Regions from separate parts of the Homo sapiens genome. Here region 1 is linked to region 2. The links come from fine-mapping of genetic effects on gene expression. A gene starts in region 2. The other region holds a variant in brackets. All regions are shown on one strand. Distances are between the middles of the regions.

Region 1 (5,239 bases), 110 kb before region 2:
GGCTATGAACTTTCCTCTTAGCATGGTCTTTGCTATATCCCAGAGGTTTTGATAGGTTGTGTCATTATTGTCGTTCAGTTGGAATAATTTTTAATTTCCATCTTGATTTTGTTTTTGACCCAATGATCATCAGGAGCAGCTTATTTAATTTCCATGTATTTGCATGGTTTTGAAGGTTCCTTTTGGAGTTGATTTCCAGTTTTATTGCACTGGGATCTGAGAGAGTGCTTGATTTAATTTCAATTTTCTTAAATTTATTGAGATTCATTTTGTGGCCTATCTTATGGTTTATCTTGGAGAAAGTTCCATGCACTGTTGAATAGAATGTGTATTCTGCAGTTGTTGGATGAAATGTTCTGTATATATCTGTGAAGTCCATTTGTTCCAAGGTATAGTTTAAATCCATTGTTTCTTTGTTGACTTTTTGTCTTGATGACCTGTCCAGTGCTGTCAGTGGAGTATTGAAGTCCTCCACTATTATTGTGTTGCTGTCTGTCTCATTTCCTAGGTCTATTAGTAGTTGTTTTATGAATTTGGGAGTTCCAGTGTTAGGTGCAAATATGTTTAGGATTGTGATATTTTCCTTTTGGACAAGGCCTTTTACCGTTATATAATGTCCCTCTTTGTCTGTTTTAACTGCTGTGCTTTAAAGTTTGTTTTGTCTGATATAATAGATACCCCTGCTCACTTTTGGTGTCCATTTGCATGAAATGCCCTTTCCCACCCCTTTACTTTAAGTTTATCTGAGTCCTTATATGTTAGGTGAGTTTTCTGAAGGCAGCAGGTGGTTGGTTGGTGAGTTCTTATCCATTCTGCAGTTCTGTATCTTTTAAGTGGAGCATTTAGGCCATTCACATTCAGTGTTAGTATTGAGGTGTGAGGTACCATTGCATTAATGATGCCATTGTTGCCTGTGTACCTTGGTTTTTTGTTTTTGCTTTTAAAATTGTGTTTTTGCTTTATACGTCCTGTGTGATTTATGCTTTAAAGAGGTTCTGTTTTGATGTGTTTCCAGGATTTGTTTCAAGATTTAGAGCTCCTTTTAGCAGTTCTTGTAGTGGTGGTTTGGTAGTGGCAAATTCTCTAGGCATTTGTTTATCTGAAAAAGGCTGTGTTTTTTCTTCATATATGATGCTTAGTTTTGCTGGATATGAAATTCTTGGCTGATAATTGTTTTGTTTGTGGAGGGTGAAGATAGGGCCCTTCTAGATTGTAGGGTTTCTACCGAGAAATCTGCTGTTAATCTGACAGGTTTTCCTTTATAGTTTACCTGGTGTTTCTGTCTCACAGCTCTTAAGATTCTTTCCTTCGTCTTAACTTTAGATAACCTGATGACAATGTGCCTAGGCGATGATCTTTTTGCAATGAATTTCCCATGTGTTCTTTGTACTTCTTATATTTGGATGTCTAGGTCTCCAGCAAGGTCAGGGAAGTTTTCCTCGATTATTCCCCCAAATATATTTTCCAAACTTTTAGATTTCTCTTCTTCCTCAGGAACACTGATTTTTCTTAGGTTTGGTCGTTTAACATAATCCCAGTCTTCTTGGAGTCTTTTTTTGTATTTTCTTATTCTTTTTTCTTTGTCTTTGTTAGACTGGGTAATTTGAAGACCTGAATTTCTTTCTTCTACTTGTTCAGTTGCATTGCTGAGACTTTCCAGAGCATTTTGCATTTCTCTAAGTGTGTCCAACGTTTCCTGAAGTTTTTCTTTATGCTATCTATTTCCTTGAATATTTCTCCCTTCACTTCTTGTACCTTGTTTTTGGATTTCCTTCATTGGGCTTTTCCTTTCTCTGGTACCTCCCTAATTAGCTTAATAACTAACCTCTTGAATTCTTTCTCAGATAAATCAGGGATTTCTTCTTGGTTTGGACCCATTGTTGGTGAGCTAGTGTGATTTTTGGGGGATATTAAAGAGATTTGTTTTGTCATATTACCAGAGTTAGTTTTCTGGTTCCTTCTCATTTGGGTAGGCTCTGTCAGGGGGAAGGTCTAGGGCTGAAGGCTGTTCAGATTCTTTTGTCCCATGGGGTGTTCCCTTGATGTAGTACTCTCCCCCTTTTCCTACGGATGTGGCTTCCTGTGAGCAGAGCTGTAGTGATTGTTATCTCTCTTCTGAGTCTAGCCACCCAGCAAGTCTACCCAGCTCCAGGTTGGTACTGGGGGTTGTCTGCACAGAGTCCTGTGATGTGAACCATCTATGGGTCACTCAGCCATGGATACCCGCCCCTGTTCTGGTGGAAGTGGCAGGGGAATGAAATGGACTCTGTCAG[C/T]GTTCTTGGCTTTGGTGGTTTAATGCTCTATTTTGTGGTGGTTGGCCTCCTGCCAGCACGTGGTGCTTTCCAGAGAGCATAAGCTATGGTAGTATGGAGAGGAACTGGTGGTGGGCGGGGCCTTGTAACTCCCCAGAGTATATGCCCTTTGTCTTCAGCTACCAGGGTGTGCAGGGAAGGCCCATCAGGTTGGGGCAGGGCCAGGCATGTCTGAGCTCAGACTCTCCTTGGGCATATCTTGCTTCAGCTGCTGTGGGGAATGGGGGTGAGCTTCCCAGGTCACTGGAGTTGCGTACCTAAGAGGATTATCACTACCTCTGTTGAGTCATGCAGGTTGTCAGGGAAGTGGGGAAAGCTGGCAATCACAGGCCTCACCCAGCTCCCACGCAATCTGAAGGGCGGTCTCACTTCCACCATGAACCCCCACAAACAGCCCCGAGTCTGTGTCCAGGCAGTGGGCAAGCAGGGCTTGAGAACTTGCCCCAGGCTACCTGCCTCCCAGCTTGGAAAGAAAAGGACTTTGGTTCTTCCCCTGCTTGTGGAGTCTGCATGCCGGATTCTTGTTCTGCCCCGAGTTCTGGCCAGGAGGCTTCTTGCCTGGTTCAAATTGTTACAAAGTTTAGCTAAAGATTTCCTTCTGTTTGTGGCATTTCCCCCCACACCTCTGGCTGCCCTCTTGAAGGATCCCTGTGGTGCCAGGCAAGAGTGGCCTACTTGGGGACCCGGGAAGCTCCCAGGGCCTTTCCCGCTGCTTGCTCTACCCCTGTATTTTGCTTGGCTCTCTAAATTGACTCAGCTTCAGGCAAGGTCAGAAACTTCTCCTGCAAACTAGACCCTTATTTTCCCCAGTGGGGGTATGTGTTCGGGAGCAGTGAATCTTCTTTTCCCACTTCGGCAGTTGGGGCACTCACAGCATTTGGGGGTCTCCTGGGTCCTGCAGGAGTAGTCTGCTTCCTTCAGAGGGTCTGTGGGTCCTCTTGGGATTCCTGGTTTGTTCTTGCAGTCGTTCTGCAGCTAAAATTCACAATACAAGCCTCTGCACACTGCTCTGTCTGTACAAGTCAGAGCTGTAAGCTAGTCCTGTCTCCTGTCCGCCATGATGATCAGAAACTCCCACCCTTTTACTTCTTAATAGTACTATGGCCTGTAAGATGCAGTGGAGGCGAGGTCTGCAGTTGCTTCTTAGCGACTGGATTATGCTCCTTTCTTGGGGGAGTGCATGTGGAGCCTGACTTCCTCTGCTGCCCCAGCTACAGCTGTTAATTGATTTCATTCTTTTTTTATGGCCCAATAGTATTCCATTGTGCATATCTACCACATTTTCTTCATCCATTCATCTGTTGATGGACAGTTAGGTTGATTCCATATCATGGCTATCATGAATAGTGCTGCAATAATCATGGGTGATTTCTCTGACCAAGAGAATATGGTAGAAGTGACACTGAACAAGTTCTGGTTGTAGAATGTAATGCCCAACCTTGTTTTTACTAACGCTGTTTTTAGACTCTCCCTTTCCTTTAATCACCTAGCCTTGTTTCCACCTGAATTGACTCTCCTTTAGCTAAGAGAGCCAGACAGACTCCATCTTGGCTCTTTCACTCGCAGCCCCTTCCTCAAGGACTTAACTTGTGCAAGCTGACTCCCAGCACATCCAAGAATGCAATTAACTGATAAGATACTGTGGCAAGCTATATCCGCAGTTCCCAGGAATTCGTCCGATTGATAATGCCCCAAGCCCCGCGTCTATCATCTTGTAATAGTCTTAAAGCTCCTGCACCTGGAACTGTTTACCTTCCTGTAACCATTTATCCTTTTAACTTTTTTGCCTACTTTACTTCTGTAAAATTGTTTTAACTAGACCGCTCCTCCCCTTTCTAAACCAAAGTATAAAAGAAAATCTAGCCCCTTCTTCGGGGCCAAGAGAACTTTGAGCATTAGCCGTCTCTTGGCCGCCGGCTAAATAAACGGACTCTTAATTCATCTCAAATTGTGGTGTTTTCTCTAACTCGCTCAGGTACAACAGACTGCCAGAGGTCTTATTTTCCACTGTTGCTGTCTTAGAATTCAACTGCTATGTGAAGAAGCAAGGTTATTCTGTTGAGGAGGCTTCAGGAAGAAAGAGGCCCTAGCGGAGAAAAGACTATGAGGTAAAGAAAGGTCCAGCTGACTTAGCCTTTCTAATCAACTAGCTAAGACCCAGACAGGTGAGAAAGGCCAACTTGGATTCTCCAGCTCCAGCTGAGCTTCCAGATGACTCAGCTAAATAAACATGAGGAACAAAGCTATCTCTGCAGAGTCCTGCCCAAATTGCATGGTCATAAGCAAATGAATGGTGATTGTATCTTAAATCCCTAAGTTTTGAGGTGACCTGTTGCGTAGCAATAAATAACTTACACTGATCATTTCATTAAATAATTATACTTTACTAAATGGAAAGAATTAGGATCCAGAATATTATCTTGTCAACATGTAAAGGATAGTGCTGTTTCACACAGGACATTGCAAATTTCAACCCATCTTGCTCAGATCAGCTTATGACTTCCTACTACTATTTTTAGGACTAGTGTTTATACGGGACTATTTCTCAGATGATTCTCTTGCTTAGTTACTACAAATTTGGGGTTTGCCTTTCACTTGAATTGGGCTTTCTAGAACGAAAAGAAGAAAATCAAACTATTTCCTACACTGTGCCTCTCAACTTAACCATGACTGTTTCTCTGCTCTTTTAATCTTTACTATACACCTCTGCCAACCAGCTCAGACTTTGGAGATGGAAAATGGAAGAAATAAAAGAGAAAGCGAAAAAGAAAGATAAAGGAAACGAATCTGCAGAGATAAACAGAGGAACTGATGTTCTCTAGAGCAAAATGAAGAAGTAAATTTGAAACTAAAAAAGACTTTCGGGAGTTCCTTTTCTTTCATCTTCTAGAGCACAGAGAGCTTCATTCAGGGTTACATGAATCAGA
Region 2 (5,239 bases):
CTTCCTAGCGTACAGATGACCACAGTGTAACAGGGACCAGCTTATTTCTCCTCAGTAGCAGGACTCTTGAGTGCCCCCTCACTGGGGATCCTCAGCAGATACTCTTTTCACCTTATAATAGGCCAAGGTTCACCTCCTTATCTCCTGCCTCAGGATCTGACCTCTTTTTAGTTTAAATATACTACTATAACAGTAGTATAATTCACTTCCTTCAGGGAATATTTTACCTTTGCCATATGGTTGTGGTTTTACCCCATCCCAAACCATCTTAATGACATCATAATACTATTATCTGACAGCAGTGCATCTCCCCAAATCTGTATTATTCAGTTTTAAAAAATAAGCAATGAATAACATTCTTTGGAGAGCAATTAGGAACTGTTTTTCATTTCTTCTGCAGTACTCCACTCCCTTATCCCTGCAAACAATTGCTCAAAGGTCAATACAACTGTTGGAAAATACAAATCAGAAGTGAACAGTGTAAACTTACATTATTTCACTCTCAAACAGAAGTTTCAGAGACTTATAACTGAAAAAGATCACACTACTTATGGTTGTAAAAGAACGTAGCTTCTCACCCTGAAACACCAGAATTTACTCCAGGTCCTTTAGGAGTATCTGGTGTTAAAGCAAACTAAATATGGCCTGAGAAGGACTCCATACATCTATACTTGAATCCTTGTGGATGAACTGTAACCTAGCTTAACAGACAAGATTGAAAACCTAACTTAGAAGTATGCGTCTCTTACAATAAGCGAGTCTTGGCCAATTCCAGCCGCCACACTTCAATCACTCATAGACTGCTAAGTGTTCAAATAAGGCCAACGCCAACCTGTAACCAATCCAGCTGTTTCTGTACTTCACTGCCAATTTCTGTACCTCATTTCCCTTTTTTTGTCTATAAATCTTCCACCACGTGGCTCTGCTGGAGTCTCTTAATCTGCTGTGATTCTGGGGGCTGCCCAATTCGTGAAATCGTTCACTGCTCAATTAAACTCCTTTAAATTTAATTCAGCTTAAGTTTTTCTTTTATAACTGGTAAACAACTGGAGACCAGGTAGGGTCTAAATGCTTTATTTATCAGCTTAGTCTCCACCTTAGAAGTGACAAACATTCTCCGTTTGGCCAAACTTCGGGCTCCTGGGCCTTCTCCTAGGACCATCTGTGCATCTTCTTGTAAAACTCAGTTTCAGCAAAGAACCTTGTTAAGGCAGTGTAGTGAGAATCCCTCACCCTTGATGGGGTTCCTCATCCTCCACCACCCCCAGGTGATGTCTGCTATCCTGGCCTATCTTCGTCTAGAATCCTGTTGTGTTGGTTTAGCCAGAATCTCCCTTGCCCCTGATATTTCCTCTTAGTAATTTTCCATCCACTGACCGACTTCCACCCCTTGGCTATAAATTCCTACTTACTCATACTGTATTTCTATTTGAACAGGTAAGGGAGAAGGGAAGAGTACGTAGGACACACTCAAATGCCTTATCCTCTAAAAATCACTCAGGAATCTTTAGCCTTAATTTCCCAGCTTTTGTCCTTTACACAGTTACAGATTTTCCTTGCTCATAAACGCTGTAGGTCTTCCCTGCTTAATTGGAAACTCCTTGCTCACAAAATGATTCACCCCCATTCCTAGAACCGGGCTTGGCAAAGCATAGGCTCCCAATAATGAATGAATGGATTTATAGAAGAAAAGGTTTTTTCTTTTTCAGCTGTTACTACAATGGTCAACAATAACGACAAAAACCACTTAAAGTTGGACAGACGTCTACTGCAACCAACTCTCAAAAAGTTTAGAACAGCGCACTACGCCCCGCCCATTGGCGAGAAACGGAAATACCCGCTTTCGAGAAAACCGGAAGTGCGTGGTCACGCCCCGCGCATGCGTGCATCGGGGCAGCTCACGCTTCCTAAATCCCGTCATCCAGTGAGAAAGCAGGGACTCTTCGGCCTAGGCAGCCGGGACCCAGCCAGCCCTGCGCCTCGCGCCGTCGCGCATGCGTCCTGGGTATGTCCACGCGCAATAAGGAGGGGCGAAAGGACATTTTTTTTTTTCTTGCTCCCGCCTCTGTTCTTCCCCCACCTGCCACGTACAGAGCCCAAGTTCTCGCTAGGCTTGTTGGGTCAGCGCGATTGGCCGGGGCCCGCGCGAGCCTGCGAGCGAGGTGCGGCGGTCGCGAAGGGCAACCGAGGGGGCCGTGACCACCGCCTCCCCGCGACGCCCCAGTCCAGTGGCCTCGCGTCCGCCCATTCAGCGGAGACCTGCGGAGAGGCGGCGGCCGCGGCCTCCGCAAGCCGGTATGGCCACTGGAGACGGGGGTTGCGGGCGCTCTGTCCGAGGAGGCCGGGAGACTAGGAGGCGCTGGGAGGGCCTCGTTCGAACCGCGCGGCAGCTGGGGTCGGAGGCACTGTGGGAAGGGGCTGGAGGGAGGAGGGGGTGGGAGGGAGGAGGGGGTGGGAGGGAGGACGAGGCCGGGGGGGAGGGCGGGCGGGGCCTTGCATGGGGGGAGGGGAAGGGAGGTCGCGGAGGGGGAGGGGAGAGAGGCAACCCCTGGCTGCGGTGGCCAGGAGGCGCGCCTGGGGGGCTCCGGGAGGGGAGTGCGCCAGCTAATGCCTTGGTGCAGCCTGCCTCCAAGCGTTTGGATTGAGAGGAGAGGGGCTTTGGGAGGTTTGGGGCGGCCGGCGCCCAATACCCGAAGGAGCTCGGAAGGGTGTGGAGTGGCGCCTACGGGAATAAGTTGATTGGGGTCATAGAATCGGAGCCTAGTTCCTTGGCTAAGTCAGCGCTTAATCAAGCGCCGGCTGGAGGCCCAGCCTGGTTTATAGTGATGATTCTAGCTAACTTTAAGAGTTTGCTTTGCTGGACACTACAGTAAGTATTTTGGATGCACTGTCTCATTTAATCATCACAAGGATTCCTCCAAATTCAGATATGGTTGTTTTCATTTCGAATGTGATGAAAGTGAGCCTTGGAGGACTTAAGATCACATAGCTAGTAGTGAGAATCTTTACCGTCTTGCTGCACTGCCTTTGAGGCAGGGTTTGAGGCCTCTTGGCATTCTTTAGAATAATTACAGGTTGACTTGGCTTAGTATTTCTTGAAGGAAACTGCTCCCCTCAGGAGGTGCTTAAGCCACAGCCTCTGAAATTGAGCAGGGTCTTACCCTTAGAGGTAGTAGAACCAGAAGTTTGTCCGCCGAACCTAGAACCTGGTTCAGGAGGCAGGCTTTTTATATGACCTTGGGCGTGTCAGATTATTCCCAGTGCTGAGAAAAGTGTACCTGGTAGAGGGTTATATTATACAAGTTAGAAGCCGAGTCATTTCTGGACTTCAGAGGGGGCGGGGCAAGGACAAGATGGGAGAAGAGCTTGTCGTAGGGCTCCTACTGGCAGTTCTAGGAACTAGTTAATACCAGTCTCTACTTTGGAAGAGAAAATGAGTACCAGAATTCTGTATGTGAAGTAATGTTGGGTTGGGATTTCCCCTTGAAGGGAAAGTTTTGTTGCACACTTACTTTTGAGATACTTTTGTGTTTACTCTGGGGAGATGACTGCAAGAGCAAACGACAGCTTTAGGAAAGAAGCACTGGTTCCTGGCCACAAGATGTTTACAGTCAATAGGAAACACAAAAAGTGAATTTGCAGGTAAACACGGCAGATAGAAAGTATACGTGACTCAATTTTTTTTTTTTTTTGAGACGGAGTCTGGCTCTGTCGCCCAGGCTGTAGTGCAGTGGCGTGATCCCCCAGCTCACTGCAACCTCCGCCTCCCGGGTTCAAGCGATTCTCCTGCCTCAGTCTCCTGAGTATCTGGGATTACAGGCGTGCGCCACGACAACTGGCTCATTTTTGTATTTTTAGTAGAGACAGGGTTTCACCCTGTTGATCGGTCTGGTCTTGGACTCCTGACCTCGTGATCTGCCCGCCTCGGCCTCCCAAAGTGCTGGGATTACAGGTGTGAGCCACCGTGCCCGGCCCTCAAATTTTAAATCCATTGAAATTGGGCAACAAACCCGTACCCCAGTCAGAAGGACATACCATCAATTATCTTCAAAGCTGGAATTTTTTTCTTAATTAGGAGTGTGTCTGATGGAAGTCACTTCTAGCTACATAAAGAAGGTACAGTGTGAGGGGTCGGATGTAAAAACTGATCTATATTACAGCTTTCTTCTCCCATAATTAAAAAATTTAAACAAAGTCTTTAAATTCTATATGTCAGGCACTTTTCTAGGTGCTGCTGGGAATAGATAGTACCAGCTCACTGAAGCTAAGCACTGGTTCCTTTTACATTATTGCTGGTTTACACTTCTTGTAGGAAGGAGAAGGTAACAAATACATTGATTTATTGAAAGGTCTTTATTACTCTTAGGCTGCCAGAGCAAGCAAGATGGAATATTTACCATCTTGGTGAAGTAATTATACTTTAGAGTTGGCACATAGTAGGTATTTAATAAGTAGTTCCTGAATACCGAAAGCATTGCAGAAGGCATTGCAGAAGGCGAAGAGTTGGTTGTGTGGAGATTTCTGTTAATCACTGTCTTCACGAGAAGTCCATTGTGAGAACTGGCAGATAAAAAGCTAACTGTATTCTTATTTTGCATTAAGATAAGCATGGCATCCCTAGAGTGGAATGCAGTTCACTCTGTTCTGCATTGACCTTAGAGTGTTATATTTAGTTTTAATGACCCATTTCATTGAAGATTTATTAATAAAATATCTGTTGAGAGCATGGTGAGGGGTCTAGAGATATTAATTTAAGGACTAGTTAGATGGAAGGACCTAGCGTATTTATATGAAGAATAGTAGGGCATTAATATATAATATTCATATAATAGGATTCATGAAAACTTTTTTGAAGTACTTGAAGGGTTGATATGTTGGGGGAGTAGGTGAGTGCTTTCACATACCCCGAAAGAATAAAGAATAATTGCAGAGAAGTGTGGTGTTAATGAAATAACAGATTTAAGAGGAGGAAGCAGAAAGCTGCTAGTAGTAAGGCGGGAAGTTGAAACTAGAATGTGGCCAGTAGTAGTTTGTAGGATACCTTGAAAAGTCTCAAGAGATCATTTTCTTGGGGCAGGAGGAGGAAGGAGTTATGCTTGGAAAATGTTCAGCGATTATAGATAACATTCAGGAACATCTTGGCCTTGAGAAGAAGAGATATTAATCCATTATTTTTCCCTTTATTTAATAGCTGTTGAATGACTGTTGTCTGCTAGGCACTGTTGTAGACTCTGGGAAT

Which allele goes with the higher level. Alleles are on the strand shown, and positions count from the first base shown. SD is a standard deviation of normalised expression in the study named.
With allele T in place of C in region 1, the expression in platelets of the gene that starts at base 2,068 in region 2 is lower (large effect, 1.1 SD a copy in CEDAR).

The links. PIP is the estimated chance that this variant, and not a neighbour inherited with it, causes the effect.
Region 1: its variant is the best candidate, but not a certain one, in a credible set for the expression of TFG in platelets (CEDAR, PIP 0.85).

The regions. Positions count from the first base shown.
Region 1 is chr3:100,598,127-100,603,365 of GRCh38, forward strand. No RefSeq gene overlaps it. Among named protein-coding and RNA genes, the nearest start is that of ADGRG7, 8.9 kb to the right of the region's middle. RefSeq lists an enhancer at 4,993-5,239. The variant C/T (reference allele first, on the strand shown) is at 2,274.
Region 2 is chr3:100,707,427-100,712,665 of GRCh38, forward strand. It overlaps TFG (trafficking from ER to golgi regulator), which reads left to right and starts at 2,068. Exons shown (of 8, transcript NM_006070.6): 1 at 2,068-2,295. RefSeq lists enhancers at 1,636-2,527, 2,528-3,418 and a silencer at 2,165-2,394.